Linked DNA regions of Homo sapiens: region 2 is linked to region 1. The links come from fine-mapping of genetic effects on gene expression. Tissue or cell type: fibroblasts. Region 1 holds a variant in brackets; the other region holds the start of a gene. All regions are shown on one strand. Distances are from middle to middle. Region 1 overlaps TNIK (TRAF2 and NCK interacting kinase). Region 2 holds the start of TNIK (TRAF2 and NCK interacting kinase).

Region 1 (16,009 bases):
GCAATCACTTTTTAATGTAATTTACTTAGGCTCACATATCTTTTAGCTCGTATTTTGCTATTTTATTAAACTTTAATCTTTTAGAACTCAGAATGACAGCAGGACTGGATTAGTGGCCTCAGGAAACACAGGGTCTGCTCATGAGCAGTGCCACCTAACATCGTCTGGTTGCCTAGAAACCAAACCCTTAAATAGGTAGGTAGGGAGTTATAATTCTTTAAGTAAATCAACACAAGGCCCCATAGCATTTTTTTGGGGGGGGGGGGAGGGGACAGAGTCCCACTCTCTCGCCCAGACTGGAGTGCAGTGGCAAGATATCGGCTCACCACAACCTCTGCCTCCCAGGCTTAAGAGATTCTCCTGCCTCAGCCTCTCGAGTAGCTGAGATTACAGGTGCATGCCACTACCACCTGGCTAATTTTTGTATTTTTAGTAGAGACAGGGTTGCATCATGTTGGCCTGGTTGGTCTTGAAATCTGAGCTCAAATGATCCATCTGCCTTGGCCTCCCAAAGTGCTGGGATTACAGGCGTGAGCCACCGCACCTGGCCAGGCCCCAAAGCATCTCTAACTACATTCTCATTTGACTAATACACAGAAAAGCTGTGGTGGCTACAAAACAATGGGGCTGGTAAAAGAGAGCAAATCTCCTGTCCCAAAGTTCACTGCATTCACCATGACCATTCTTTGCAGAATCTCCCTTAAACTTGGAAGGTGCCATAGTACTGTATCAACCACCAAGAGAATGGAATCCTTTAGAATAATAATGTTGACAACCTAGCTGCTAAATATCTTCCCTCTCTAAAAAGATCTGAGACCTCTTGCCATTTGTTTCCTTGCCTTTTTCAAATAACAAGAAATTATGGATAATTCTGGATTTTCCAAATATTCTCATCCTTAATTGAATCTCTTGGTATCTCCTCTTATAAGACTGCAGAGTTTCACCTCTTGAATTAGTGTACCAAGCTGTGAAATGTCTCCCAAATGTATATTCTATGGGTGGGAAACATAATGAAACGGAAAGGCTCTAAGAAATGGCACCATAAAACCAACAGCATGCTACAGAGTTGCTCCTTCATATTGACAGCAAATCAGAAGTAATTTTGTACCTAAGTCAGAGCTTAATTCATTAGTTACTTCACAAGTTCAATCCAGTTTCTCAAAATGCAGTAACACAATCTTCCAACCTAATTATCTTCATTGAAAGTATTTAAAAGCCTTTGCTGAGACACATTTCTTTCTGTGTCAGACAGGATCAACGTCAAGTGAGCAGGTTGGGTAGACTACATTCTGTCTAATGGTAAAAGGTGTACAATTTAGGAAATAATCGTTTCTTGCAAGGGAGAATTTTCCCCTGGACACCAAAGGAAACCTCTCGTAAATAAACATATAAATGTGTATCCACTTAGAATCTCGAGAATACCCTATAAATAATACTTTTGACATTCTGCAGAATTGAAAATATTACAACCTGAATGATTTCTATAATAAATTTAATTAACTGAGAGAAGTTTAGGGCTCAGGAGGAATTTTTAAAAATAGAACACGAGATAATTTGTAATGGAAATGCCATCCCATATCGCTGCCACTAGGGAAAATGATGGATATTTCCCTAGAAATTATCATGAGGAAACAGTTGGTTTGTTTTGATGGCATTTCAATAGCTCATTCAATGAAACCCCAAAAGTTTCAGTCCAAAAACAGTTCACTTTCATTTTTTTTGTTTTTTTTTTTGACAATCAGAAAAGGAATCAACTCACATTTTCAACCAGCCATTTTTCGTAGATTATACTTGGGGAAAATACCTTTTAAAAACACTTTTTGAGTGAATTTGTAAGCAGAAATTAGTACACAGGCAAGCAAGACTTCTTATTCCACAGCTCAGTCTCAACTCAAGTTTAACTTTTAATTATTTCCTAAAATTCGTCGCTGCTATTAAGCTTTTGCTTTGTGAGGTAACCCAGTTTTCTTCCAACACTGTTCACTCCACTCATTTAATTCATGTCCTAGGCCAATAACACATCTACTTTTCCAGCTGTAATAGTTTAATAGCTTAAATTTCTGAAGTAGATGGCATTCTTTTCTCTTTCAAAAACCAGTTCTGGCAGTGATTAAGTAAAGGAAACTGAACGCTTGAAGAGCTTCAAATATGTGCCATCAGAATTCATGTGTCACATACAAACACAGTAATATATAATGAAGGGAAATACCCAAATCACAGAATCCAGTTTAAGCAACATAACCACAGATATATTTTAAAAGATGGAGAGTCAATCAACAAGTATATTAATTCATTTTAAATTTGTTAGGAGCCATTTATGAGCCAGTATAGACAGCACTGCAATTTGTCATTCATGAACTGAAACCGTACATAAGCCACTCTCAGACTCAATGTACTTACCTTATAAACTTGCCCGTATGTTCCATTTCCAACAAGTTCCACCAATTCAAAGATCCCTGCGGGGTCCTGAAAGAAAATAAACAAACAATAAAAATTCAAAACAATATTCCAGGCATTGCCTTAATCAAAAGCAAATACTTATTTAAATTAAGCAAATAAATAACAACTTTAGCTTCAGGGGCTCTCATGTGTTAACATTTAATACTATCAAAATTTTAAAATTTAAGTCAGCTGCAGCTATGAAATTAGCCAAGTTCTATTTTCTTTCCATTTTACATTTCTATGAAATGTGTTTAAATCAGGCAAAAGGAGATGCTTTTTCAAGTGAAATAATAAAAAAGAAGTAACACATTTCTCACTGTTAAATGGAAAAACACACTTGCAGGAGCTACAGCAAGATAAAGTGAAAGACTCATCATCCTGAGAAGGTTCTAATGTTCCAGGGTATTTCTCTTTGAAATATCCGAGCTGTTCATTGTGTTGAGTGAGCCCTGGTAGCTAAGAAGGGTGTTCGTGCATTGTGGGGCAATCTTACCTATGGTAGTCAACAGTTTCCAAGGGAAAATAGAGTCAACTTAACTACCTCTCTCAGAAAGTTTTTCTTTGGATTCATCTCTTCTGTAATACTGCCTCTACAAAATATACTTTTGAGGATAGCCTCCAGTTCCTGCAGTACCTGCTGAGTAACTGCAGGATTTAGAATGCAAACTAAATTGGAGAATTATTCAAGTTCTTACCACCAATCAGTTGTCCACTAACCCCAGGAGTCAGCTAAATGTTACAGCGTTCAATAAATATCCAAAATTACTGCTATTATAACTGAATTACTATCCCAAAAAGTTGAAAAGAAAAATCAAAGCCAATAAAATTCTATTCAGAGGCAGAAATTGACTTTCACCCCTTACTGATTCCTAACTGGACAGAAATTGCTTCTTTAAAGGCATAAATCTAGGAGTCACAAACTTAAATGTCTACAGAGGCCAGGCCAGTAACATAAACAAGTAAAGTGGTCCAGTTGGGGCCTGTGGCAAACTGGGCAACCCGAGCCTCCTTGAGGGAGGTAGGGTATGGTATGGTAGGGTGGGGTGGGGTGGAGTTTACTTAGCTGGAGCCACTTGTTGTCTTGTCAACATATGAGCACAATATTGCCAGGTCTAAAGATTTTTCAAGAGAAACTGAACATTGTATTTAATGTGAGATCTCCTATTTTTTAAGTTTTAGGCACTTAATTTAAAAAACATTCTTAGGAACAAATAAAAATAGACTGCGCCTTTGGCCTGTCTCTACTGGACACTTACATAAGAGCAATGCCATATATTATTACAATGGGTGGCTAAGAGGCAGGGAGGGAACAGCCTGAACTTCAGATTCAGAGAGACCTGGGTTAAATACCAGCTGTGCCTTGACCAGCTGTGTGATCCTAGGAGACCCCGAGAAAGCAACATATTGTCTGGGTCTGCAGGGATGACATCTACCTAGCCATGCTCTTGTGAAGAATAAGTGTGGGCTTTGCACAATGCCTTTCAAGTAGTCGGAAATCTATTAACACCTAATAGTAATCACTTTTAAGCTGAGAAATTCCACACCACCAGCAGGATTTAAATGGGGGAAGGGGAAAATGAGTTTATCTGCTATTCTGGGGAAAGGGAAAAATGAGTTTGATCTGACAAGTCAGGATGCTTTAAAGTCCAATCTGTGGTAAATCAAACTCAAGAAAAGCCCCTGCGTAGGTGCCTTCAAAGATTCCACACAGAGAACAAATAAAAACAAAAACAAAAAGCAAACAAAGCACCCAACAGATTAAGCACTTAGTCACTGAGAAAGATTGGAGTTAGCACTACATTACCTGCTCTTACAAAGCCAGAAGGGCAAGAAACCACACTCCATGCTCATGTCCTGAAAAATCCAGAAGTCCAGAAGTTCCAGTTATGCCCCACCTGGTCTGGGAGGTGTGGTTCCAGACAGAACCACAAAACCGGAAAACACTCTTAAGGGACTTAGAGCTCTGAGTCGACCAACACCCCATAGTTAGAAGACACCATCAAGGCCACCTGGGAGGCCTCAGGATCGGGAAGAAAAATTTTGTTGGTTAAACTACTAGGCCATTAGAGCAGCAGGTTTTATTACAAATGGAATTAGAAAGAAATGAGGAAAAGAAAAAAAAAGCCCATAAATGGTGGCAGCTGCTGTTTGTTTCTAAGCTGTGCTTCCCAGTAGTTTGTTTGCTTGGTGGTGTTTCTGCAACATATTTGGAGAGAAGTCCTACATTTGCTTGAAATAGCTCAATTGTGTTTTCAACATTCATTTTTCTTAACTAAAAAAAAAATAACAGAAAGAGAAGAGATACAGGACAGTGATGAGTGGCTGCCTCAAGGAACCTGGGAATCAAACAGGGATGTGAGATGAGGGCAGGAGCACAAACAGGTGCAGAGCAGGAATCAGCTTCTACATCCAAAGGTCACTCGCCTCAGGGTCCCCTCTCAGAGCTGGGGTTAGTAGGTAGGTCTCAGGAAGATCTGGACAGCTGACTTGTGAGGCTCTTTTCTCTCCTTGAATAATCTATTCTTGGGTATATGTCCCAACCAATCAAAACCAAGGAGGCTTAATGCTGAGCCTTTAGTTCAAACTGCTAGGAGAAGGTTTTTGCTGGACACATCCAAGGGCCTCAGAAGTAAAGTTCAGAGGAACTAAAGAGTTCTACTGGCAACTGGCCTTGCATAGGCAACCAAACTGGAAAGAATCATCATATCAGATGGGTTCCCCAGGAATAAAACCTGAGACTCCCTGAGATTTATACTGTGTGAGTTTATTGGGGTATGCCTCAGAATCAACACCTGCCGGGGAGTAAAGGAAGAACTGGACTGAGCCAAAGGAAGAGCTGAACTGAAATGTAGTGGTAACAAAAACTTCATCTGATCCATGGAAGTGCTGGAGCTAGGACAGCCCTGGAGAATTATCCTACCTGGAAGCATCAGGACTTTGCATCCCATCTCCATTGACTAGTCACTGCATGTGGGATGCCCCCCAATACCCGTCCCAGAGGTAACAATCTTAGGTGAACTGACACTGTTCAGCTGAGGACATTTTTCAGATGAACGTCATCCCTAGCTACCTACACTCCCAGAAGGTGGACAACTGAGTGCCTCAGCAGTGGAGAACTGAGCTCTGTGTGACATACCACAACATACACTACAAGCACCATGGCTAGAAATAAGAACCAGTCTGGAATCAAAAGAGAAGTCTATAAGCATCTACAGTCTACAGTATCCTGAGAGTAACAAAGCAAAATAGCATGAGTCATGGTATTTGCAAGGAGGGGGCTCTTTGAAACCCTAGATATGGAAGTCAGAGGTATTATTCAGTGACACCTCAGTACTGACCCTAGGCTCTCTTCTCTCTTTCCCCCAATCCAAGCGCCTGGAGAGCTGAATGTTTGTGAATAGTCTTTCACACAAATGCATTTCATCATTAGTTACATCCTTGTAGAATTGTGATACAGCTTGAACAGTATAAGCATTTAGCTGTTTTCTCCATTCTAGAGTACCTCTAAAGTAATTTCCCCAAAAGGTCACCATGAACCTCAATTTCTTACACATAGTGGTTGCTTCTCAGTCCTGTCCTAGTTGTCCCTTTTGAGGCATTTATACTCCTGAGCATCACTACTCCTGTTGAAAATATATCCCTCCACCATCTTCTATCATACCTCTTAGTCTCTCTCACAGATTCTATAATATTTCTTCTGCTCACACCTTCTAGGTACCTTCCCCTAAGTTTCCACCCTTGTCCACCACTCCCCTAATTTTGTTCACTAAGTGTCAATGATCTTATCTCCAAATGTCCACCATATCCATCTACTCCACTCCATTCACACAACAGGCTTCATCATCTTTTTCTGGGACCATTTGCTTTTAGTTAATTCTTTCTTCCTTCTAAGCTATTCTCCATACTGATCTTTCTAAAACAGACATTTCTAATCATGACACTCCATGATTTAAAATAATACAAGATACGGTTCAAACTGAAAGTCAAGGTCATGTCATTCTTAGGCCTGGCCTCGATTCCCAGCCTTGTGTTCCATCATTCTGTACTATAACCAACACATGTCCCTCATGTCCCTAACATACCACACTCAGCTCTTGGTTCATACTGCCCATCTGCCAAGATTATTCCTTCTGCTTTCTTTATGAGGCAAGCCCATCCTTGAAAGCCCAGCTTGCTGCCTCCTTTCTGAAGCCCTTCTTAAATCAGCGTCACTGCCTCTCTCTCTCTGCAGCCGCAATATGTTGTGCACAGCTCTATGATAACCATTTTCACATAGTGCTAGCCTCTCTTACATTTCTCTCCCTTGATGAATTACAAATGCCTCAAGAGCAAGCACTGTAACATATTTATCTTGGTATTTCCAGCACTTAGCATGCTGTCCAATACATAACTGCTAGATATAACTATTTACTGAATAAGGTTGATGTCCCACTCCCAATTCTTCAAGACATGTATAGTGCAAATCACAAAAAATGGGATCAGAATGTAGAGCCAAAGGTCTAGCAAACTTACATCATTTCTTTTAAATCTAGACAAGTTGTTTTACCACTGTGCCCTCTATCCTCCTTACCCCAATCCCAAATGGACAAAACTGTCACATGTAAAAGCCCCTGTAGTATTCCCAGCTTAAAAAAATAAAATCCATAGAGCCTGTTGTAGTAAACTGTGCCTCACGTGCATTGAGAAGACAGGCTGTCAGAATGTGGCCAACAGAATGTGCAGCAAGGAGAGGAAGCTGTACCTAATAATCATGTTACAAAGACAGGAAAGCTAAGAGATAAGAAATCCACTTAATTCTCCCTCTTGTGTTTGCTTAGCTGCTCTTAAAGCCAGGATGAGCAGCATGGAAGAAAGTTACATACACCAAGGAGAAAAGAGCAAATCATTGACATTTACCAAAGTCAAGAATCCCTGTTGGCCACACATGCCTTTATTCAGATCTTAACCTTTGCTGGGAGGGTGAGAAGAGAATTTAATTCTAAGGTAGAGTAGTTTACATTATTTCATAATGAAATATAACTACATATCAAAAGGTAGACTATTCCTTGAAAGA[A/G]AATGTAATTTTTCAGCCAGTACTGATAAAAGCAAACTTGGTTAGTCATGACAATAAAAATTACAGTAATAGTGAACATTTCATGAGGACTTATGTGTCAGAAACGATTCTAAGCATTTTTCATGAATAGCTCATTTATCACAGCTTTATCAAGTGGATGCTATCATTATCTTTGTTTTACAGATTAGGAAATGGAGGCACGGAGGGATTAAATGCTTAGTCAGGGTCACACTACTAATGAGCGGCAGAGCCAGGATGTTGACTCAGATGGTCAGACTCCAAACCTTGAGTTCCTAATCACTATATCATAGCTTCATGGAACCATAATCCCCAGCCCTTGGTTTACCACCTGGTAGCTCTCTAACCTTGAGCCAGTTTCAGAACTGCATTGAACCTCAGTTTCCTCATCTTTAAAATGTGGACAGGATTACCTCCCTTGGGAGATACAATGAGAACTGTGAGTGTCTAGACTAGCTTGGGGCCTGATATGTAATAGGACTTTAATAAATATTCATTTTCTTCCTCCCTTTTCTTTTTCATCTTTGAAAATGAGTTCATGTAATAAACAAAGAATATGCCACAGTAAAATTCAGTCCGCATTTTATAGATTTTCAACTAAAAAAGCCAATAAAACTAATCTGGCCAGTAAACGAAAACCTATTGCTTTTCAACCAATAATATTACCCACCACATGCTTAGCAAACAGAGTCAGGTATTTATGGACAAAATGTATGTCTCTTTAAAAATTAGTTAGACAATTGAGAAGGCGCATTAAGTTTTGGGGGTTCCTTGGATGTTGAAATAAATACTCTTTCTTTCAGCTGATGAAATTTAGATGGCATTGGCAGGCTCAAGCCCAGCTTCACAGCAGAGAGGAGAGATTTAAGATCTAGGGTTTGATATTCCCTGCCACTAGGTTATGCTTTAATTCCTCCAGGTCCTCTGAATGATACTGGATTTATAAGAACACTAAATAACACCACTGGGCTAAATCCCAAAGATTGAAAAAGGCAAACTTAAGTCTGTAACTAGGATGACTATTTCCTTCACATCATAAAAGATGATACATATTCTTTCCAATGCCTCCCCACTTCTTTGAAAATGAAATTGACACGGATCATGAGCAAATGGCCTACACAGACTCTAGACACCCCTCCTCCAAAACGCCTCTTAAAGACACAGCCGTTCTGTGACAGAATCTTTTACTTGAGGCCACCAGTCCTCTGGCAGGGTAAAATACACCCAACAGAATACGGATGGCTGATAGTGCTCCCAGAATGACTGCTACCCCCGGATTCCCTATTGACATCTGCCAAACGACTGTGCTTACTCTAAACTTACGGGCCTTAAGAAGACCAAAATGTTATTTCTTTTAGAACCATATTTAGCAGCTGTTTTGTTTGGTTTCAGCCCTAACTGACAAGCATATGCTTACAAAAGCAAAACAGAACAAAGAAAACAGGAACAGTAGGAGAACTCTCCACATTTATCTTGAGGCTTCAGGCTTTTCAACATCATCTTCGAAAGTACAGCATTAGGAAACTGTGCTGACTCAACAACCCCCAGATTCTAGTTTATGCTGCACTCACAGCCAGGCAAGTTCCCTCAAAGGTAATTTTTTACTTTAACTTCCCCTCTTCTAAAGCAGTAGAGGTTTGCAGAGTCAAAGGTCTTGCTTTACACAGTAAGATTTATTTAATCCCTGACTGCTACCTGGCACCCTCCCTCGCCACCTACTGTGTGTTATACACTGTCCAAGGTAGAGGCAGTGGGGTACATGGCCCCTGCTTCATGGTGCTTCCAATCTAAGGAAGGAAGCAGACATGAGCAACTTACTACACGTACATAGTGATTAGATCATCATAACGACAAGCAGCATATGAGAAAAGGTGCTCCAAGAGTATTGATCCAGGAGATCTGGAATATAGCCCAGAAGCATATCTTCATTAACCTGCTGGCCCAAAGAAGTCATCTCAACTGGAATAGATAATTCAAGTAAAAAACATAAATATATACAGATAGATAGATAGATGATAGATAGATAGATAGATAGATAGATAGATAGATAGATAGATAGATGAGAGAGATATGGCTATAGGTAGGTAAAATACTGATTGTTGATTTTTCTTACTTGATCATCAGTGTAGGACAAATTAAACTATGCAAACCTATCACAGGACTGGTCCAAAACAATTAGGGTTCAAGTCTGGATTCCACTCCTTACTAGAGTTCTTTCACCCCTCATATTCCAGTTTTCTTCATCTGTAATTTGGGAAAGTGCCCTTTGGCCTGCATTTTTACAATGTCGCATCCTGCGTATGAATGTTCTAGGTAACTCCCCAGCTCCCTGTGTCAAGCATCGTCTTTTGGGAAGGGCTGTCCTGAGTGTAGGCTGATTCCAGGACACAAACTGCTCCGATAGAGCTGTTCCTGGCTAGTGTTGGTATCCTCTTACTAATACCAGCTCCTCAATGATCAGCTGGCTACTGGCAGAACACAGCCAAACCTCCAGGAACTAACCCTCGATACTGGTAGCTTCCAGTTTGGCTTTCATCTCTCAGAACAGGGAGACTGGAGCCTCCTCACCTCCTGTTTGGTTTGCAGTCTGCTTAGTTTCACCTGCTAATGTGCAGCAGCCAGCAGTGACACTGCTTTAGATCACCCTCCCCGCTCAGCTGCTTCACTCAAGACCCTGCAGCTCCAGCCTGTCCTCACAAAGTCGGCCTTTAGAACTGGATTTGAAACATCACTCCTCGGATTAATCACTGCAAAACCTTAAGCTATACAATAAGCTATAATAGGCATTATCGTTGTCATTGGGATAGGCCATAGCCTAAATGCTTTTCATACATTTTCATATTTCTTCCTTATGCAACCTGAGAAATAGGTATTACTAACCCCAATTTTCAGATGATAAAACTAAGGCGTCAAGGAATTAAGTAACTTGCCCAAGATTAAACAGTAAGTGGTAGAGACAGCAGCCAAGACCAGACTGTAAAGTAAAGGTAAAAATACCTGTCATGGAAGATGGTTCTGAGAATCCAAAACAACATATATAAAGCATTTAGCACAATGCATGGCAGTGCTTAATAAATAATGGCTACAGACATACTGCTCTTGCTGGTGGTATTAAGAGAAGTTTCCCAAGGTGATGACAACATTGGTTCATAGTAGAGCCAGGATTCAAATCCAGGTATTTTGAATCCAAGTCCATTATTACTCATTTCTCTACAAATGGCCAATGCTGAAATTAACCTGGGGTTACGGGGATGCTGAAGGCCTTGTGGGTTAACAATAGAGCCAGAGAATGGGCAGTGACCTCAGGACAGGAAACCACAATGAGCCAAATGGCTGGGAGCATAGAAGTTTTCTATACCATGGTTGCTTGGTGTCCCTGCCTCTTATCAGAGCCAGAAGCCCCAGAGAGGGAGAGCAAACAGGCTCTCAGATTTCTATCTAAAGCTAGTTTCTTTTTTTCCTACTTTGCCATTAGCTAGGATGAATGCTAATTACTTTAAGCTAACCAATTAATTGACAGTGAGAGGCGGTATAGCATAATAGTGAAAACCACAGACTCTACAGCCAAAAGCCTGAATCGAATCCCAGCTTCACCATTTTCTAGCCATATGACTTTGGGCATGTTATTTAATCTTTCTATGCCTGTTTCTTCAACTATAAAATACTGATAATGGTAGTACCCACTTTGCTGGATTACTTGATATAATAATTAATATATATAAAATGTGTAAAGCAACATCTAGCATATTGTAAGTGCTTAAAAAGTGTTCGCTAAAAATTCTTTACTCAAGAAAGAATAATTTCTTTACTCCAAGAATGAATAACTCTTATTGGTTTTGTCCACTGCAGTATCTCCAATACCTCGATCATGACTGGGACATCAGAGATATTCAATAAATATTATCTGGATGGAGCAAGTCCTCACATCACCACTTCTTCCACCGACAGCCACAATGCGGTAAGGTCTGTGACATTTGCAGCGAGGATTTCTGAGATCATATCAATAAAATATCTCTACCCATTTTACAGAAGAGCAAAGAGAGGCCCAGACAGGCTCTATATACTTATGCAGTTATAGATTTCTCCAGCAAGATAGTTTAGGTGATTTATCTGAGGTCTTATCCTAGTTAGTGGCAGAGTTAAATGAAGACCTATGTCTTTTGACTTCTAGTTTTTCCTTCTGTTTGATTTCACCCTTTAGTAAACCGATGGAATCACCCATTGCCTTTCAAAAAGTGGACCTGGAAAGGAAGGAAACAGGGACAGTAGGTAGGATGGGCAGGCCCTGCTGTTCTTTTGCAAAATCTAGGTAGTTGGGTTAAGAAATCGATTTCATTCATTTCCAGAAATGATGTAAGAAGATTTAGTGCACATGGCCAGTTTGACAGTCCATTTAGTAGGTCACATGCATATATATCAGCATAAAAGATAAATAATATTTTCAAAATATATTTTTCTCGGTTCACAGACTTAGCATATTCATACTCACAGTTAGCTCAGTTCAAAATTATTTCCTTACAGATGAAAACAAATAATTCTACATAAATTGATTATTGTCTACTAGCTTACATTGCATAAATAAGTATATACAACTAAGAATATAAAACTAAAAAGAGAACAATCCAAGGACTTCTTGTAACACTGACTTGAATATTTTTTCTGATTTTGGTGCATAGCACAGCTATTTTAATCCTTTGTCAGCTGCTGGGATTCACTGGCCAGCCCTTCTCATGCTTCTTGACCTGAAATTCCCAAGTCACGACTACAAACCTGCTTGTGCACACAAGGAATGCACAAGCCCCAACTGTGTGTTCAGAGACTGTTTTCTAACACATTCAGAGTCAGAGAAAGGCACACCAACTCCATAAGGCAAGTTAAGAAAACTCTTCAGGGTACTAAGCCACAAGACAGATATTGGAGAAGGATAGCTCTCTCCATCACCTCCTGTAATTTTTCTCAGCTCTTCTAAAAAAGTCTTTTAAGAAGCATACATGCAGGCCGGACACAGTGGCTCACGCCTGTAATCCCAGCACTTTGGGAGGCTGAGGCGGGCAGATCACGAGGTCAGGAGTTCGAGACCAGCCTGACCAACATGGTGAAACCCCATTTCTACTAAAAATACAAAAATTAGCTGGGCGTGGTGGTACACGCCTATAATCCCAGCTACTCAGGAGGCTGAGGCAGGAGCATCGCTTGAACCAGGGAGGTGGAGGTTGCAGTGAGCTGAGATCACGCCACTGCACTCCAGCCTGAGCGACAAAAGCGAAACTTGGTCAAAACACACACACACACACGCGCACACACACACACACACACACACACACACGCAAGTTGCTTTAAAGGTCAATATGCACATGACCACCCCCAACCCCAGCCCCTGCTCAACCTGGTCCCTTCCCTCCCATCATCAGGTTGTTGCAGAGATTATACAGCTGTTTGGGAAAATGTATCATACAGTTTACAAAGATTTGCAAACATGGGATCCTTCCAGACCTGTCAGGACAGGGTAACTTTCCAGTATTTCCAGCAAAACGAGGTGGAAATGATGGGAACCAGACTAGCAAATATTTTGGCCTTTTGCCTTTTTGAAGATACTTAGATGAAGAAAAAGATAGCAACTGCAGGAGATGGATTTAAAGACAAGAGCTGGTTACCTAAATAATTAAGAAAGAAAGATTAGGAAACAATTCAAGGTTCTGTTTTGGAAGAAGAGCCTTAACGGGACCATTCCCCCAGAGATACTCATTTACCACCTGCTTACAACAGACCAATGACACGTTATTTGCTTGAAAGAATTTTCAACTGTTCTTCCTACACCTATAAGCAACCATGAAGTTGATTACAGGCAGAGGTGAAACTTTTAGGTAAAAGGGACCTAACTCTATTCTAAGTCTAATAGGAGTATGAGGCCCCCTTTACCAGCTGCCTACCTGTCCCCACCCCTCTTCACAATACAGTGAGCTTCCTTCTTTGCCCTTTGCAGAGGGAACCTCTGATGAGGGCAAGAGTTGTGCACACTGAAAGGGGCAGGGTTAATGCCTTTCGGCCAAGGGCCCAGGACTTTTCTATGAGTAGGGAAATATTGGCTGGTTGATTAGATCATCTGTTACTCTCCCATTTCCAGAGAAGGGTGAGATGGCCCAGAGCCATGTAGGAACAGCCAGGAGCCCAATAATAGCTACCTGGAGCAGGGACCTGTCATCTGGCAGAGGTACAAACCAATCTTAGTCCATCACTTGGTGTCACCAGTAATGGTACAGATGGCTGACCAATACCAACTCTTATAAATCTCATACAGATGTTAATAACAGGGCTTCATTTGCATCTATTTTTTTTTCAAGCTTTTATATCTATGGCTAGGCCACCGTGAAGGACATACAAATTTATTTGCTTGCTTATTAGTTTTGCAAGGCAGATAACATTTTGGAACGGGGGATTTATACCATCTGTTCAAGGATCTAAAAGCTTTTTGGCAGACTCAAGAAGCTAAAGCCAGTCCTTTTGTCCCTCCAGATTTCCATGGGTGTTGAATTTCCACTGTCAAATAAGTTTGGGAACACTAGGTTAAAAAGATTAGCAGGTTAGGGGTTTCTTTACTGCAAGGCCTCTCAAAGCTTTTAATGTGTTAATGTACCCTGTGAATCTCCAAGACAGGGCAAAGCTTTTCATATTTTCCTAACTTGTCTGGCCACAGAACACTCCTTAAGGAAGCTTTGTATCTCCTCTAAGCACTGATATTCTGCAGAGCATAGAATGGAAAATGACAGTGTATAGAGCAATCTTTTCTGTGTCATTCCTACTTAACTAAAGCTTGCATCTTAAGTTACTGTAACAGAGATGGATCAATGCCACCCAATATTCATTCTCCCCTTGCTCCTTAACAAAAATTCCAATTTTATTTGGGAGGAAATGCACCCAGCTCAAAATCTACATGCCCTTGTCCCACTGAAGCTAGGAATGAATACATGACTAAATTCTGGCCAATGGTATGTAAGCAGAATTACTGTGTGGGGCATTCAGAAGGGCTGCCCAAATGGAGCTGACTTAGCTGGGAGAAGGGTTCTTCTGTCTTCCTCCCTCCTCCTTCCTGCTGCCTGGAATGCAGATGTAATGGCTAGAACACTACAGCCATTTCTGATCCTGAGGTGAATTTAAGAATGGAAGCCTTATGCTAAGATTGTTATAGCGGAACAATAAAATGATCCTATGGTTCTGACGATCATGGAGCTACCATGCTACCGCTAAGCTGCCTATGTCTGAACTTCTTTATCTTGAAAGAGAAACAAACTTCTATCTTCCTTAACCCACTAATATTTTGAGTTTTCTGTTTGAAGCAGCTGAAATCTAATTGATTTACTTTGAAGTTTACTGTTCAGATATTTTTATTCATTTATGTTTAACTAACATTCCTTCTTTAAAGGACTCTTCTCCATTAGCCTTTTGCTCTTTGGTAGAGGTGGCAGTCTCTAAGGTTGTTGAATACATCTTTTTTTTTTTTTTTTTTTTTTGAGACAGTCTCGCTCTGTCAGCCAGGCTGGAGGGCAGTGGCATGATCTCAGCTCACTGCAACCTCCGTCTCCCGGGCTCAAGCAATTCTTCTGCCTCAGCCTCTGAAGTAGTTAAGATTACAGGCGTATGCCACCATGCTCAGCTAATTTTTGTATTTTTAGGAGAGACAGGGTTTCACCATGTTGGCCAGGCTGGTCTCAAACTCCTGACCTCAGGTAATCCCCTCGCCTCAGCCTCCCAAAGTGCTGGGATTATAGGCATGAGCCACCGTGCCCGGCCTGAATAAATGTTCTATTTCTCCTCCTGCTGGCATGTTATAGGATGGCACTTCCCTACCCCTCTTGAAGCTGGCTGGGGCCACATGATTTACTTTGGCTAATAAAGTGTGCATGGAAGTGATGTTCCACTTCCAGATGGAATATGTGACTGACAGTTCAAATCATTGTGATGACTGTGGAAGCATATGTGGACATGATGCCTCCATTAGTCTGGTACTTGGATAGCTGATGAATGGAGTCCTCTACTGACCCACTCTAGGCATGTGGCATGGTCGAGAAATAAACTTTAGTTATATAAAGCCTCTAAGAGTGTTCATTACCATATCCTATCCTACTCTACTCTGACTGAAAGAATAGAAAAGACCAGAAACTGATGATAATAATAATCATATTGTATAATGCTTTGTAACTTTTGAAACAATATTTGAGAAGAACTGCTTCACACTGAATGTCTCCCCATGCCCCAGACATTATGCAGGGTATTTTGCAAAGGTTATTTTATTTCATCTCTGCATCAATCCTGTGAAGTAGATTGCTCACAAGAGAAAAAAAGCGAGGCTACAAGAGCCTCCAATGCCAAAACATACATTCTCCTCACTGTCTCCCATGTGCAATATCTGAAGGCAGCTCCCAGAAACAGTAAAATCCCTTCCAAAGCTGGCTGATGATACAGGGGGCAAGGAAAGACCAGAATTTTTACAAGGTGCCT
Region 2 (16,009 bases), 86 kb after region 1:
CACACTCCAAACACACACACACACACACACACACACACACACACACACACACATACGCCTTGCAATTCTAACCCATGGTATTTTAAATCTCTCAAAACTTAGAATAAGACAATGGAGAGAACACTTTCCTTGGCAGAAAAATTCTAGAAATAGGAATACCTACCCAGGACCAGGCATAGTATTTCTCGTAATTGGTGCCCCCGGAATTGTACTCTATGTAATTAGCATCCACTGGAATTGTACTCTACATAAAAAGTGTCCCCAGGAGTCATGCAACCTAGACTATAATGTAATTCATGATCCCTGAAATTGTGCCATGGTCAGCAACAGGCCCCACCTTTCTGAGGTTTCTATACTCTCTCTACATAGCACCACCTCCAGCCCTTCTAAAAGGGTTGCACAGTATATATTTTGTTAATTCAAAATTTATTTGTTGAACGAACGCCTGCTGTGTAAAGAAAACTGGTGAGGATCCCTAAGAAAATCAAACGTTGCCTCTAAAAAGGAATTGTCTAGTAGTGAATATAATCCAAGACAGAAAGTTCTGAGTGTTATGAAAGAGGTGTGAGGTCAGTTCTGAGACAGTCTATGAGTGGGAGGGACAACTTGAGAGAAATCAGAGACTTCTGTGGAAAAGGTGGTCTGCGAATGTTCAGCGTTGGGGCAGTAGGTACAGAAAGGAGACTAAGACAGAGCGCCCCCTACAGAGCATCCATGGGGGAATGAAATTGTTCCCTGCCGCAATGGGGGAGTGGTCGTCAAAACTGCAGAGCTCGGTGGGAGGCCCCTCTGAATTGCCGCTGGTCTTAACATGCTAAAGAGTTTAGTTTTCAGTCTGTAGACTAAGGAGACAGAGAAGGCCTTGAATAAAAACAACCAGATTGAAACTGTGCGTTTGGAAGACTCACGTGGCTACAGTGTACGAGAAACCAGTCAGAAGAAGGCTGGTGGTAGAGACACAGGAGGAGGGGAGGTCCTGTTGCGGGTGTTGCCCAGGGGACAGTAACTACAGCACTTGCAGGGAACAGTGGAGACAAGGGGACCCATATGATAAACATTAAGGGAAGAATTTTAAGTTGGGGTGATATAAAATGTGTTTTGAGAAACTGAGGGCACCCCCATGAGACAACCAGGACATGTAAAAAAGAGTGGATAGAATCATGTTTCTCTAAAGGGAAATAAGCTTCCAACCAGACTGGAAGGAATCACAAGCGGAATTCATCCAACATTTTCTACTTAAGTCCTCCCTCTCTCTCCACTAGAGACCTTATATTTATATGTGCAGAATAACATTTCATTCAAAAAATATCATTAAGATTTTCTTAGAATTCTCAGCACACTGCTAACAAACCAGTTTAGGCCCTGTTCTCAGAGAGCTACTTCCCCCACAGAAATGTAAGAATCAATTTGACATTAAAGCATCTTTCAGACTCAAGTTACTCCAGATTCTATCAGGAAGGGAATCAGAGACTGGTTGTGCTCAGCTGGGCATGGCGGCCATGATTCAATCACAGGAGCGCCTGGCTGGGTGGACTTTAGAACCACTATCACTGAGAGAAGGAATGGCGTCGAAACAAGAAGGGCACGGAAGATTAATTCCAGGGCAGAGACACAGAAAGAAGAAAGGCCGAACGGGCAAGACTCGAAATTATAAGATATCAAAGAGTTTTACAGATAAGGGGGAAAAAAGGAATATTTCCTGAAAGAAATGTACTGGGTACTCTCTCATCAACAAAATATTACATGACCTCCTAAGTAGATAATTATGCAAACAGCAAACCATGACTTACACTGGCTTTTGTACTAAAGATTACTCCAGTTAATAATGAATAATGAAAATGATTATGCATATTTCTCTGATGTTCTGATAAATACCAGCACACCCTACTTTTTATGAGGCAATGCCATTGTAAAGAAAACACCTGTTTAGTATCTCTGAAAAATAAAAAGAATATCTAATGAAAAAATTGCCATGCTGTTATCATTTTGAGATACTGTTATCAACTCATGCAACTTTACTAAAATCTCATTTTAGACCAAATTTAATTAAGTGCTCTGGAGTAATGAACTAATAATGTTTCGAGATTTCTTTGAGCCCCATGAGACCTCTCACCAGAAAGTTTTAAATACTGGGCCATTAGTGTATCATTTTATGTGTCCACTCTATCTCCCAAGGGAAAAGATAAAACTTTAGGAAGGCACAGTCATGATCAATGTGTTTGTATTTGAATAATCGGTAATACATAAAGAGAGAAAACTTTTTTTAAAAAAGAAGGTTTTAATGAACAATGCTGATAGTTGATACTAGTTTAGAAATATGTTAATCTCCAAAAAACTTCAGGGCTGCACTTACCTCATATGTAATGAATGCTTAATACTGGGGGCGCAAAGCTCAATTCAGGCCATCAAAGAAACATACAAGGTCACATTGGTACACAAAAGGAAAAAGGCAGCTAAGGTCTGTGGAGGTACTGTTAAAAAGAGTCGGAACCTTCTGATATCTTTTTCTGAAGATTATTTTCCTTCTTTTCTTAGTCTTCTTTTTTTTTTCTTAAACAAGATGTCACTCTGTCACTGAGGCTGGAGTGCCGTGACACAATCACAGCCTCGACTTCTCAGGCTCAAACTATCTTCCCACCTCAGTCTCCCAATTAGCTGGGACCACAGGCACACACCACCACACTGACTTTTTTTTTTTTTTTTTAGAGATGGAGTCTCCCTACATTGCCCATGATGATCTGAAACTCCTGGTTTCAAGCAGTCCTCCCACTTCGGCCTCCCGAAGTGCTGGGATTACAGGTGTGAGCCACTGTGCCCAGGAAAGATAATTTTCTATTAGATAAAATCATTGCAATCAAATGTTGATGGTATCAATTTTCCCACTAAATTCTACTTAACCATGGGATAGCATATTTGTACAGTGCTGTATGGTTTTTAAAGCATTGCCTTAAATACTTTATTGATTTTGAAACCAGTATGTGAGAAAGGCAAACAGTTGTGATGATTCTTATTAACTATGGTTAAATGTCCTACCCAAAGTCACAGAGTGAATAAGAGGTGGACATAGAACTGGGGAGACAGGGTTCATTCCACTCCATTCATTCAAGCATTCATTCACGTACTCATTCATCCAACTAATGGAGACTATGGCTCCAAAGATGAACAAGATCTAGCCTCTGCCCTCAAGAAGTCCACGGTTTAGTAAAGAAGCAGAAAGGAAATCACACACCAAGTAAAACATGAGCATGAAAAGTGTAGCAAAGGGATGTATGCAAGGCTTTCAGATGAGGTCAATTCTTAAATCTGGGTTTCAATGGAGAAAGGAATGGCTAGGGAATGAGGGCTAAGGGGAAAGACAAGTGTAGATCATCTAATTTTGTTCAAATACAAAAGTGTATGTGAGTCCTGGCAGAAGCTGAGAGTATGAGGTCAGCAGCAGCCAACTCCTGGCCTTGAATGCCTTACCCTGTGGGCCAAGTTAAGGACAGCCAAGGTGCTTAGGTCCAGAAATATGCTAATCTCCAAAAAGCTTTCTGGGCTGAGCTCGCCTCATATGTAATAAAGCACACTGGTGGCAACTTTCATCTCTTTTAATACTGAGATGTCTTGAAGCAAGAATGACTCAAGCCCCAGGTTTGAATGAGTAAATTGTTTGCTGTAGCCTATGTATGTATACACACATTTTCATACACCCACGTGGATACGGTTTATATCCATAATACTACACATAATATATGTATCCACATAGATAATACAAAACATACACACAACTCTATAAACCTCACATGCAGAGCCATCTGAATAACATGTATGTTTATACTGACCCCTTGAGACATGCTCTGATGGACACAGGTTACTCAGAGAGGTTACCTGTGCAGGACAACCATGTGTCCTAGGTGATTTCAGACAGTCGTTTGCCTGCAGAGTAGGCATTGAACCAGGGCTGGACAAGATGAATTCCAAAGGTGGCCTAGAGCTCCATGGTTTCATGTATCACAAGCTTACTTGCATGAAGTAGTTTCGCCATTCTCAATAAATAAAATTCCCTGACCCTGGTGAAATTATTCCTTTCTGCTATTCTTTTGTACTCAGGCAGAAAATGTATTATTGATTTCTGATTCCACCACAGAAAGTGTGACTTAGAGAAAAGAGCACTGAATGAGGAGTCAGGAAATCTAGATTATTTCCTCAAACCACGCTCCTCGCTGTCCCCTCCCCTTGTTACTGTGTGACCTTGAACAACTTACTTCACGCCTCTGGGCTTCAGTTTCCCAAGTGTTCAATGAAAGGAGTGGCTGAGTGTTCTACAATTCTCTTTCCAGCTCTGAATCTATAAAACAATTCCAGCCCATCCCTCAAGATTTAGTTTATCTCTGAGCTCTAAAAATCAGGGCTAAAACTGGATTCAAAGTACCTATTTTCTAACCAAAGAAGATCCTGCTTCACTCACTTTTAAACCATGCAAATCTTGCATAATTTAAATGATCAGTGCTGTCATTGGTTGCTCTGGTTTAAATTATGCATTGTTGCTATTTGGGGAAAATTTAGACTGGGTCCGGTCTGGAATCACTGGCTGAGAACAATAAGCCCCCAAAGTGAGAAGGATAAAGGCCTCTCTAGACAGGATCTGCTTTTAATGCTTTGAGCCCAGGGTTTACAAAAAGAGCATTGACTGTGTACATTAAAGAGCCACCGAAACAGCGAGGGACTGGTAAGTCTGCAGCAAATTCTCCCAGAAGCCACTGACCTTGGCTGCATTTCAGGGGTCAGGCATTCCCCAGGAGGGGCTCAGCAGGCAGACTTTACCAAGGGCTTAGGAACAAATGAGACATCTCATCTAGATGAGGCCACCTCTCCAAATGTGGCAAGGTGGAGATGATCTGCCCTCTGATTTGTGGAGATTACCTATGTGGCCTTTGGACCCACTCCAGCAGACACACCTCACCCACAAGACTGGTCAAAGACCCTGGCCCTCCAGGATATAACTGTCTCCACATCTGCATCTAAGTCTTCTAGCCAGCAGTTCCTGGTCCCCAAGCTAGCTGTTGCCCTCTCTGTTTCCACACCTCCCAGCAGGCAGAAAAACAGAAGCAGAGCCCTAAGCTGATAGCCCAGGCCACAAAGAGCAATTTCAGTGAATTGTGCAAAGATATATTTTCAAAATACAGATCACAAGAAAGCACATCCCAAGTGTGAACCGCAGTCGTCCGCCCAGTGGGCCCTCACCGGTTGCTCCCCTGCCTGCAGGCTCCGTGCTTGGTATCTCAGAAAACCTTCCCGAGGAAAAAGCCCATAAGGGACAAGTCCCGGCCCAACTTAAAATCACATCAGACTGCTTTCCAGTAGAGGAGCAAGGTCGAGATTCCGGCCCAGGGAAATCACCGCAAGCCCTGCGCATTGTTCAGACCCCTTCCCCCTTTGCCACTTCCCGCCCCCCACCCCGACCTCCGACCGATTCGCAGCACCCCACCCCCAGTCGGGGCCATCCATCCACCTGATTAACTCGCCGGCAGCAACTCCCAGCGTAGAAAGTAGGGCAAATGAACACACACAGTCGGTAAAGCAGGAAGCCACAGACCTGGCCAATGCACCCACCCTGTTACCAACCCCACCCCGCTGCGCAGGGGGCAGCCGGTTCTTGATGTGGCATTTCCACTCCAGGGAAATAGACAGCTTCCTGTAATAATGCATGAATGAGCTTTGGCTGCCCAACTATCAGAACAGCCCATTTCAAACGGCATCTCTGTTTCTTCTCAACTCCTTACTTGCCTTGCTGAAACCTCATCTCTTAGCCCAACAGATTAAGACGAAGAGAGAAAGACTTATTCAAAGAGATGTGGAGGAAAAGGTTTAATTAAGGAGACCAAAGAGAAAGTACCACTTTGATCACAAAGGTAGCACTTTAATATATCAGTGCAGATAGCGGCAATGTCAGAAGTACTAGGAATCCAGGTAAATGGCCCCAAGATTCAGCATCAATCTAACAATGTATTCCTCAGGAGGGCGTGTGAACTTCCATGCTTCATCCATCCTGGTGTCTCCCTGTAGAGAGCCACCATGAATTCCTTCTCATCCACCCTCCATACATCAAGTATATGCACTCGCTTTCTTTTTAATTTTATTTTTGGTTCGGGAGAGGAAGAAGCAGTCCTTAAATTGGTGTCCAATCCTTCTCAGACACCCGCTGCTGCCACCATCCCCACCCCTCACCCCCTTCCAGGCAGGCAGCATCTAATTAAAATGGCAAGAAAGCTCTGCCCCCTTCCCCAAAGGAGTGTGTTGGGATCGGGAGTTGGGGGTGGGGAAGCGTCGAAGCAGCACTTGGATTCCTGGTATTCTGATCTCAAAACAACAGCAAAATGGATTCTATATCAGTGATGTCTTAGTCAATACAATGAAACGGCGTCTGAGGTAATTCACGTGAAGGTAAACGCAAACCAGTGGGGCTGGGGGGAGGGAGGTGCTCTACAAAGGACTGGCCACAGACACGGGGAAAACACACACAGACACACACACACACACACTCGCACACACTCCAGGGAGTTCCGGTCTGATTGAGGAAAAGCAGAAAACACATCCCTTTCACCTGCTTAAGTTCAGCCATAAAACTGAAACGTTACAGCCACAAAGTCAGAAAGAACAGGCAGGGCTGAGTTAAAGCCATAAATAAAGGTGAGTGGCAGACTGGCATTTAAGGGAGCGCTGAGAGGGCGCCCGGGCGCGGGAGGTAGAAAAGGGGGAGGGGGAGGCAGTTGCCATCTACAAGACCAGCATAGCAATAACTGCCCCCTTGGAGCGGCAGGTTCGGCTTCGCGGGGACAGCCAGCCTCACAATGTCATCTTGCAGGTAGCTGGAAAACGTGAGGGGCCAGTGCCTTTATTCACGCTGGCATTCTTTTTGCAGAAGGGACAGTCGGGTCTCGCGCCTTGGCACCAGACAACTGCCCGGGGCGTGTACACACACACACACACACACACACACACGCACACACGCCTTTCATTTTAATGCTCTTACACCGGTATAAGATGAAACTGGCATAAGCTCTACGAGCCCTCGGGAGAGCCTAAGCCACGGCCAGAGGAAGACACGTACCGCACAGCCCCTGCCGTAGGGGCTCAGCCAGGAGCACCTCAGCAACCCCGAATCAAAACGGGAATCCAGGTTCCCTCCCCGACGCATTCTCCCGCTGCTGTCCCCCTGCCCCAGCCCCAGCCCCCAGTCCACGCACCGAGCCCATTCACCCTAACCCAAACCACTGGAAAGAAACCAGAAAACGTCCTGCTCACCCTCAGAGCCGAGAGATCTATTTCATCCAGGCTTCGAGCCGGGGAGTCGCTCGCCATGTCTACTTCTTCGCTGGAGAAATGGACCAAAACCACCCCGAAGCTTTTCCCTTGGAAATTCCACCTTGGTCTATTTCACTCGCGTCCTCATGCGGGTGTCGCGCCAGAGGCCCCGGGCCCAGCCTCCCCCGCCCACCCCAGCCCCACAGCGCCGGATCCCGATCCTCCGCGCGTCGGTCCGCCGGGTCCGGGAGCCCAGCCTGCGCGGATCTCCAAGCCCCGAGCAGCGGTGCGTGTGGGCTGAGCGCCCCGATCGGCTAAGGGCGCTGGGGCTGCGTGGGTGTATTTAAATGGGACATGCTTCTTTGCTTGTGCGTGGATGGCGGCTGCATTGGCTGTTATAATGAGACACATCAACTCCTCCACTCAGCAGGGGGAGGGTGGGGGTGGAGAACCACGCAGAACTGTCTATCACCGCTTCCTGGGAGGAGTGAAGGGGGAGTGGGGAGGCGGAGGAGGCGTGGTCTTGGACTGGGGAGAGGCCGCGCTTCCTGACCCGGTCCCTCTGCACCAGCGTGGAGGGGGGAGGGGCGCGCACCCTTTCCGCCCAGGCTTTTGCGGGCTCCTCGGGCCGAACCCGAAGGGGCTGTTCCTGAACCTTGACTTGTTATCATAGGGACCCAAGCTCTATTTTTGTGTGGCCAATTCGTGCACTGCAGCAAAATGGCCCTTCAGTCGCGTCTTGGGGTTTCTCCTCGGTTCAAATGCTCTCGCGCTGAGAAAAAGCCGGAGGAAAAAAAAGCGACACCCTCCCTCCCCCATTAATTATTTGTGGGGCCGGAGTAACGCGGGCTGGTGCAACCGGTGCATATAAGGACTTGTGTGCAAGGAAGGGGATCCGCCTCCAGGCGCGGAAAGAGTAGGGAAGAAGCGCACACGCACAGTGCACCCAGCTGGGCGCTTCGGCAGTTTGCAGCTGCGGCGGGGTCGGGTCCACCCGCGGTCCCCGGAATGCCGGACGGCTGATCCCGGGTGCTGGTCACTCGCCGATTCGGGGCTGGGAAGGTTTGCCAGAAGCGGGAAAGATGGGAGATCTGAGCGCTCTCTTGGCATCGCCACACCCAGGACTTGCTCGTGCCGCAATTCCCCACGGAAACAACCGAGTTGAAACGAGAAGCTTGCTCTCTGGGTGCAGTAGCTAGAAGGCTTCAGGTAACTCCAAAGCCAACACTGGGTGAGGCAACACACGCCGCCTCAGGACTCAGCATTTCTTTCAGGCTGCGTTTTCGTGGCAGACCTACCCAGATTGATGGAGAAAGTTTGGCTGGCGGATAAGAAGTAACGCGGAAGATGTGTACGTGAGAGCGATTTCACTTCACTCACTTTCTCATTTAAAGGTTGGATGTTTTACAGTGGTATACATGATTCTCCTTCTGTAATCAAGAGTGGGAAGTCGCTTCCCCCAATCCCCGCGCAGCCCTTCTTCTCCCGCCTTAGCCATGCAAAATACCTAGAAAGAAAACACTAAAACTGAACTTTTTTCCAAATACAGCAGTAGCTTTGAAAGCATTCTTTGCTCCTCTGTTAACAGCAGAATGTAATTCTGACCACTGCACTGATGGTTTCTTAATCATGCAGTATGAAGATCAGCTTCAAAATAAGTCTTATGAATGAATGAATGAAAGCCAGTGCAGTTAGTTCATCATGACTGCAGACATTAGAGGACTTTGAAACAACCTTTGGTGTACATTGTACTGTTTTTGTTACTGATATTGTATGTATTCATATGCATTGTGGATCATGCACCATGAAACTTGAAAATTGTTCCAACATCTCAATGGCCACAACAGTTTGGTAGCTTTTGCCTGTAAACGTTGTATGTAAACATTTGAACGTGTTATACTAAATTACTAAACTCATTTTTTACTAAAATCATCTGGTTCGACATAGTAAGTAACGTGCAGTAAGCCACCACGTCGAAATGAAAAAAAAAAAACAGATTATTTCCCATCATTGTCTTTGTTTTTTTCTCTTCTGTGTTCCTGTTTTTTTACCGTTCATCTAGACAACAGGTTAATGTATTGTCTCAGGGTTGAAAGAAGATAATTTAAGATCAAGTATTAAGATCTATAAACAACTATTTTTTTAAAACTGCAAACATAAGGAAATATGAGTTAAATATTTTTTCCATGGAAAGCCTTCGTTTTATACTCATGATTATATTTGAAACATCACAAACAGATCAACTTTTTTGACATTAGTGAGCTGTTTGGGCCACGAGGGTGCCAAGTTGGCATTCAGATTTAGTTTAGTTTTAGATGAGAAAGTTATAGATGCAGTATGATGCCAGGTGCTAAATGGAGGAGGGCTTCCTAAGAGCCTGAGAAGTTGATGAGACAGCCAGGGGAAGGCAGGGGTGTGGGCTGCAGGAAATACCATAAAAGGAGAGATTGCAGTATCAAAGGGACCTCCAACTGGTAAAGGAAGGTGAGAAGGAGGAACTTGAACTTTTTCCTTTTGGTCAAGTGTGTATCAAATTTCAGCTATTCCAGTATAAATTTCCTAATTTTTTCCTATGTCTCTGTATTGCCTGTACTATTTTACCACTTACTTAACATTTTTCTTTAAATCAACACTTTTTTCTTACACTTAATATAAAAGAAAACATAAATCACTACTCTAAATGGAAAGCCAACAACACTTGCTTTGAAAAAAAAAGGGGGGAGGAAACCATTAAAATAAATATAATGGAAAATAAAGAAGTATTATTAAATTCTAGCTAGCCATCAATTCCTGCTCTGGGCTTCTAGCCTAAGGCCTACTCTTAGTTTGTTAAAAGAGAGAATAGCAAATACCAGGAAAAACATTCAAGACTTGAGATTTTTTTCTTGATGTAATCTGAAGGATTAAGAGAACTGACACCATTTATGTGCAGTTTGAAAACCTGCCGAATAATACACTATGCTGTTTACATATGTATAAATATGTAGTAAACTATATAAAGCATGGATACAGGCAGTAAGGATACAGATTAACTTCAGGATAATGAGAAAAGAGGAAGAGGAAAAGGAGACTCCAACAATGATACCTAATTTTTTTGCTAAAGATTTCTGCCAGGCACGGTGGTGGCTCACACCTGTGATGCCAACATTTTGGGAGGACAGGTTGGGAGGATAGTTTGAGTCCAGGAGTTCGAGACCCGCCTGGGCAACTTGGTAGAACCCCATCTCTACAAAAAATACAAAAATTAGGTGGGCATAGTGGTACACCCCTGCAATCCCAGCTACTAGGGTGGCTGAGGTGGAAGAATTGCTTGAGTCCGGGAGGTTGAGGCTGCAGCAAGCCAAGATAAGCCACTGCACTCCAGCCTGGGCGACAGAGGGAGACCCTCTTTATAAAAATGAATAGAAAATTTGAATAATAAGTAATACTATGCTGCAGATATTTTTCTAAGCATTTGTTCTATCTGAATGTTTGTGTCTCCCAAAATTTATGTGTTGAAACCTAACCCCCATAGTGATAGTATTAAGAGGTGGAACCTTTAAGAGGTGATTAGATCATGAGGGCAGATCCTTCATGAACTGGATTAGTGCCCTGAGAAAAGAAGCTTGAGGGAGCCTGTTCGCCCTTCCACCACATGAAGATGCATAGAAGGGGCCATCTGTGAGAAAGGAGCCCTCAGCAGACTTCAAATCCGCTGATATCTTGATCTTGGACTTTCCGGCCGCAGAACTGTGAGCAATTCTGTTTCTGTTGTTTATAAATTACCTAGTCCAAGGCATTTAAGTAATTTAAGTAACATGGAGAATAAATCCAGAAGGCCCAATATTCATCTGATAAGGGATCTAGAGAATGGATGGAAGGAAATACTCAAAAAATGGTAGAAAATATTCCAGTATCTTGACTGGGCACGGTGGCTCACACCTGTAATCCCAGCACTTTGGGAGGCTGAGGAGGGCGGATCACCTGAGGTAGGGAGTTCAAGACCAGTCTCACCAACATGGAGAAACCCCGTCTCTACTAAAAATACAAAATTAGCCGGGTGTGGCAATGCATGCCTGTAATCCCAGCTACTAGGGAGGCTGAGGCAGGAGAATTGCTTGAACCCTGGAGGTGGAGGTTGTAGTGAGCCAAGATCGTGCCATTGCACTCCAGCCTGGGCAACAAGAATGAAAAAAAGAAAATATTCCAGTATCTTTAAGTAAAAAGCTCTCATTTAGCTCTGAGCCAAATGCATAGGTAAAAAATAACACACTTAAACACCTCACAGTGAGATTTCAGAGCATGAAGGATAAAAAGTAAATCTTAACTGGATTACCTTCTCATCAGCAACAATGGATGCTAATAGACAATGGAACAGTATTCTAAGGAAATCATTGTAATGGTGTTTTGTCTTGTTTTGTTTTGTTTTTGAGACACAGTCTCTCTCTGTCACCCAGACTGGAGTGTGTGGCTGGCTCATTGCAGGACCTCAGTGAGTTCAAGCTATCCTCCCACCTTAACTACCTTAACCCCACCACCACCCAATAACTGAGCTGGGACCACAAGTGCGTGCTGCCATGCCTGGCTAATTTTTTTTTTTTTTTTTTTTTTTTTTTTTAGAGCTGGAGTCTCAGTAAGTTTCCTTGGCTGGTCTCAAATTCCTGGGATTCCACCTCGGCTTCCCAAAATGTTGGAATTACAGGTGCAAGCCACCACGCCCAGCCTCTAAGGGAATTGTTTTTAACCTAGACTACCAAACTAAATTAGCACTTAAGAGAGGGTACAAAATAATGACACATATTTTCAGATATGTAAGAGTTGAGATTGCTGCCCATCCTTGAAATTACTTTTAGAGAATGTCTTCCACCAAAGAGTAAACTGAATCCAAAAACAAAGTGTGTGTTACAAAAGACAATGATAAACAAAGGTAGCAAACTCTGTTACCTGCTCAAAGCCATTCTTTCTTCCTTACTAGTAAAACACCGATTTTGACAATTTACCCTCCATGTGTGTAAAACATATAGATTCTCCCCAGCCCCATTCTATTCTCTCTCCTAATGATTGGTTTAGACATAGGCATATCATTCAACACTGACTACTGAGAAGTGCAGAGAAGTCTGGTAGGGCTTATAGATATGGTTTTCCTCCATCGGGCACCGTGGCTTACGCCTGTAATGCCAGCACTTTGGGAGGCCGAGGCGGGCGGATCACCTGAGGTCGAGAGGTTGAGACTGGCCTGACCAACATGGAGAAACCCCGTCTCTACTAAAAATACAAAATTAGCCAGCCGTGGTGGCACATGCCTGTAATCCCAGCTACTCGGGAGGCTGAGGCAGGAGAATTGCTTGAACCCAGGAGGCGGAGGTTGCGATGACCCCAGATCACGGCATTGCACTCCAGCCTAGGCAACGAGAGCGAAACTCCGTCTCCAAAAAAAAAAAAAAAAAAAGAAAGAAAAGAAAAGAAATGGTTTTCCTCTTTGAAAGTTGAAAAAAGAAAAGGAAACAAGGAATAGGGAAGGAAGATCGGAAGAAATGAAGGAAGAAGGAAGGAAGAGAAGACAAAACAAGAGAAATGGCCAGGAAAAGCTTCCTTCCCATGGTAGCTATGCCCAAGATGATTTCCAATGAGCCTCACTTTCTGGTATTCACACCCTTGTGTGGATCCCTCCAACATGGAATACAGAGGACTTCCAAAGCTGGGTAATACAAGGCATTTCAGCTTTTACCTTGCTCTCTTGGCTCACTTGCTCTAAGGCAGGATTTCTTAACATTAGCACTATTGGCATTTTGGGCCTGATAATTCATGTTGTGAAAGGCTGTCTTGTGTCATATAGGATGTTTAGCAGTAACTCTAGTTCCAACCCACTAGATATCAATAGCAACTTTCCAGTTATGACAACCAAACACGTCTCCAGATATTGCTAAATGCCCCCTGGTGAGAAAAATCACCCACAATAAGAACCAGAGCTCTATGGGAAGCCAGCCATCTTGTCCCACAGATATTCATGCAACCTGCCTGCCATGTTGATGAGTCGCTTTGAAGTGGATCTCTAGCCCCAGTCAAGCCTTCAGATGACTGCAGTCTCAGCTGATTCTGACAGAAACCTCATGAGAGATCCTAAGCTAGAAGCACCCAACCAATCTGCTCCCGAATCCCTGACCCACAGAAATCATATTATTAAAATAATAAACTTTATTGTTGTTTTAAGTTGCTTGATGTGTTATGCAGGAAGGGATAACTAATACATTATTTTCAGACAGGGTTGTGTGAGGATATAATAGCTGGAACTATAGAAGTCTTCTTCCTACCAGGGTGGGAGGAGCTTCAAAAAAAGTGAAAAGATGAAAAGAACCTGGATCCTGCATGACACCATTGAATCACTACATTAACTAACCCAGGAACAAACTGTCTTTGAATTTCTTTTTGTGTGACATAAGTTTTTCTCATGGTTTAAGTCAGCTTTAGTGGAGTATTCTGTTTTTTGCACCCAACCACTTTCTGTTATAGAAAATTTTAAATTTTTAATTGTTTTCATCATTGCTAGTTAATAAAAATAAATAATGATAGTCTATAACTAAATGATGTTATCACAAGGATAAAAGGCAAGAAGAGGAGGAAAAGCATGCTAAGATTTTTTTGTCTTATTTGGAGATGTATATAGATACTATCTCTAAACACAGAAAAGTATATCAATTATGCATAATAAACATAAGGTCACCACATAGATGGATACAAATTGGATGTTTAAAGTACAGGCTACTTGAATGGAAAAAAAATGAAACAAGAGTAACTATGAATTCAATAAAATAAAGAAAAGAAAAAATATCAACCAGAATGAGTAGTATGAAGAACAAGTTTTTAGAGTGGTGGGGCCCACCCAGTATCCATTCTGCTTTGGTATACTGTGGTAGGCAGAATAATGGCCCCTCATCGACGTCCACGTTCCAATCTCTGGAACCTGTAATTACGTTACCTTACAAGGCAAGAGGGACTGTGCAGATGTGATTCAGTTAAGGCATTTGAGATGAGGAGATTTTCCTGGATTATCAGAGTAAACCCAAGTAATCACAAAGTTCCTTAAAAGTAAAAGAGGGAGTCAGAAAAGGACTCAGAGTTAGAGGAAGATGTAATATGAAAAAGGCACTGAGAAATATAACATTGCTGGCTTTGAAAATGAAGGAAGGGGCACACATACACCAAGGAATATGGGCAGCCACTAGAAGCTGAATCAGGCAAGGAAGCACATTGTCCCCGGGAGCCTCCAGAAAGGAATGCAGCCCTGATAACATTTTTTTTTCTTTCTTTCTTTCTTTTTTTTTTTGATGGAGTCTTGCTCTGTCGCCAAGGTTACAGTGCAGTGGAGCTCACTGCAACCTCCGCCTCCCGGGTTCAAGTGATTCTCCTCCTGAGTAGCTGGGATTACAGGCATGTGCCACCATGCCTGGCTAATTTTTGTATTTTTAGTAGAGATGGAGTTTCACCATGTTGGCCACGCTGGTTTTGAACTCCTGACCTCAGATGATCCTCCCACCTTGGCCTCTGAAAGTGCTGGGATTACAGGCATGAGCCACTGCAGCAGGCCCTTTTCATTTATTTTATTTTATTTTTTGAGACAGGGTCTTGCTCACTTGTCACTGCATTCCTAGGCTGGAGTGCAGTGGTGAGATCACAGCTCACTGCAGCCTTGATCTCTTGCACTTAAGGGATCCTCCCACCTTGGCCACTGAAGTAACTGGGACTACAGGCGCAGGCCACCACGCTTGGCTAATTTTTCAATTTTCTTGTAGAGATGAAATCTCACTATGTTGCCCAGGCAGATCTCAAACTCCTGAGCTCAAGGGATCCTCCCACCTCAGCCTCCCAAAGTGTTAGGATTACAGGGATGAGCCACCATGCCTGGCCCCTACTAACATCTTGATTTTAGCCCAGAAAGACCCATTTTGGACTTCTGACTATAGGATAATAGATTTGTGTTATTTAAGTAAAGCCACTAATTTTGAGGTGATTTGTCACAGCAGTGATTTAAAAAAATGAATACAAACTTCTTTTATCCATTTTTATTTTTAAATCATTGTCTCTTTTCCCTTGGTTACAGATTATTGTGGCTGTCACTCAGGTTTTCTGCTCATTGGTAGACAAAGGGTGAGGAGGTGACTGAAATTGGAACAGTGGAAGGACCCTTCACCAAAACCTGGAACTTCAGAAGAATGGCAGGGCTGAAAATGATTAGTGTTAATTCATTCCAGTTGTGTTACCCTACCCATAAGGTATGACTAGAGACCACTCCTCTTTCCTAGTTCGAGGAATAGGAAGCCTTGTTTCCTTGTATCTTGTTCGTTTCCAAACTTGGTTCTCTGTGCTAGTTATTTATTGCTTTATAACAAACAAACCACCTCTAAACTCAATGACTTAAAACAGTAACAGTCATTTCTGTAGCTTGAAAATGTGTAATTTGGGCAGGATTTCGTGGGGAATTCTCATTTGCTCCACAGAGCATGAGGTAGGGCTGGAGGACCCACTTCCAAAATGGCTTGCTCACATGCCTAGCAAGTGTGGTGTTAGGCTATCAGGAGTGCTCAGCCAGGGCTGATGGCTGGGAGCTTCTCTTCCTCTCCGGGTGGGTCTCTCCACGGTCTGTTGGAGCTTCTTCATGGCATAGTGTCTGAGTTGCAAGAACAAGCATCCCATGAGAACCAGGTAGAAGCTGTATTTCCTTTTCTGACCTAGCCTCAGAAGTCAT

Evidence for each region. PIP is the estimated chance that this variant, and not a neighbour inherited with it, causes the effect.
Region 2: it holds the start of TNIK, and the variant in region 1 is fine-mapped to the expression of TNIK in fibroblasts (GTEx, PIP above 0.99).

The regions. Positions count from the first base shown.
Region 1 is chr3:171,367,220-171,383,228 of GRCh38, forward strand. TNIK (TRAF2 and NCK interacting kinase) reads right to left here. Exons shown (of 33, transcript NM_015028.4): 2 at 2,401-2,466. Among named protein-coding and RNA genes, the nearest start is that of TNIK, 85 kb to the right of the region's middle. The variant A/G (reference allele first, on the strand shown) is at 7,496.
Region 2 is chr3:171,452,720-171,468,728 of GRCh38, forward strand. TNIK (TRAF2 and NCK interacting kinase) reads right to left here and starts at 7,686. Exons shown (of 33, transcript NM_015028.4): 1 at 7,288-7,686. The coding sequence starts at 7,344. It overlaps LOC124906303 (a long non-coding RNA gene), which reads right to left and starts at 5,452. Exons shown (of 2, transcript XR_007096168.1): 1 at 5,227-5,452. It overlaps LOC102724479 (a long non-coding RNA gene), which reads left to right and starts at 6,499. Exons shown (of 3, transcript NR_189068.1): 1 at 6,499-6,672; 2 at 15,365-15,536; 3 at 15,997-16,009. RefSeq lists silencers at 7,316-7,375, 15,907-15,956 and an enhancer at 8,387-8,887.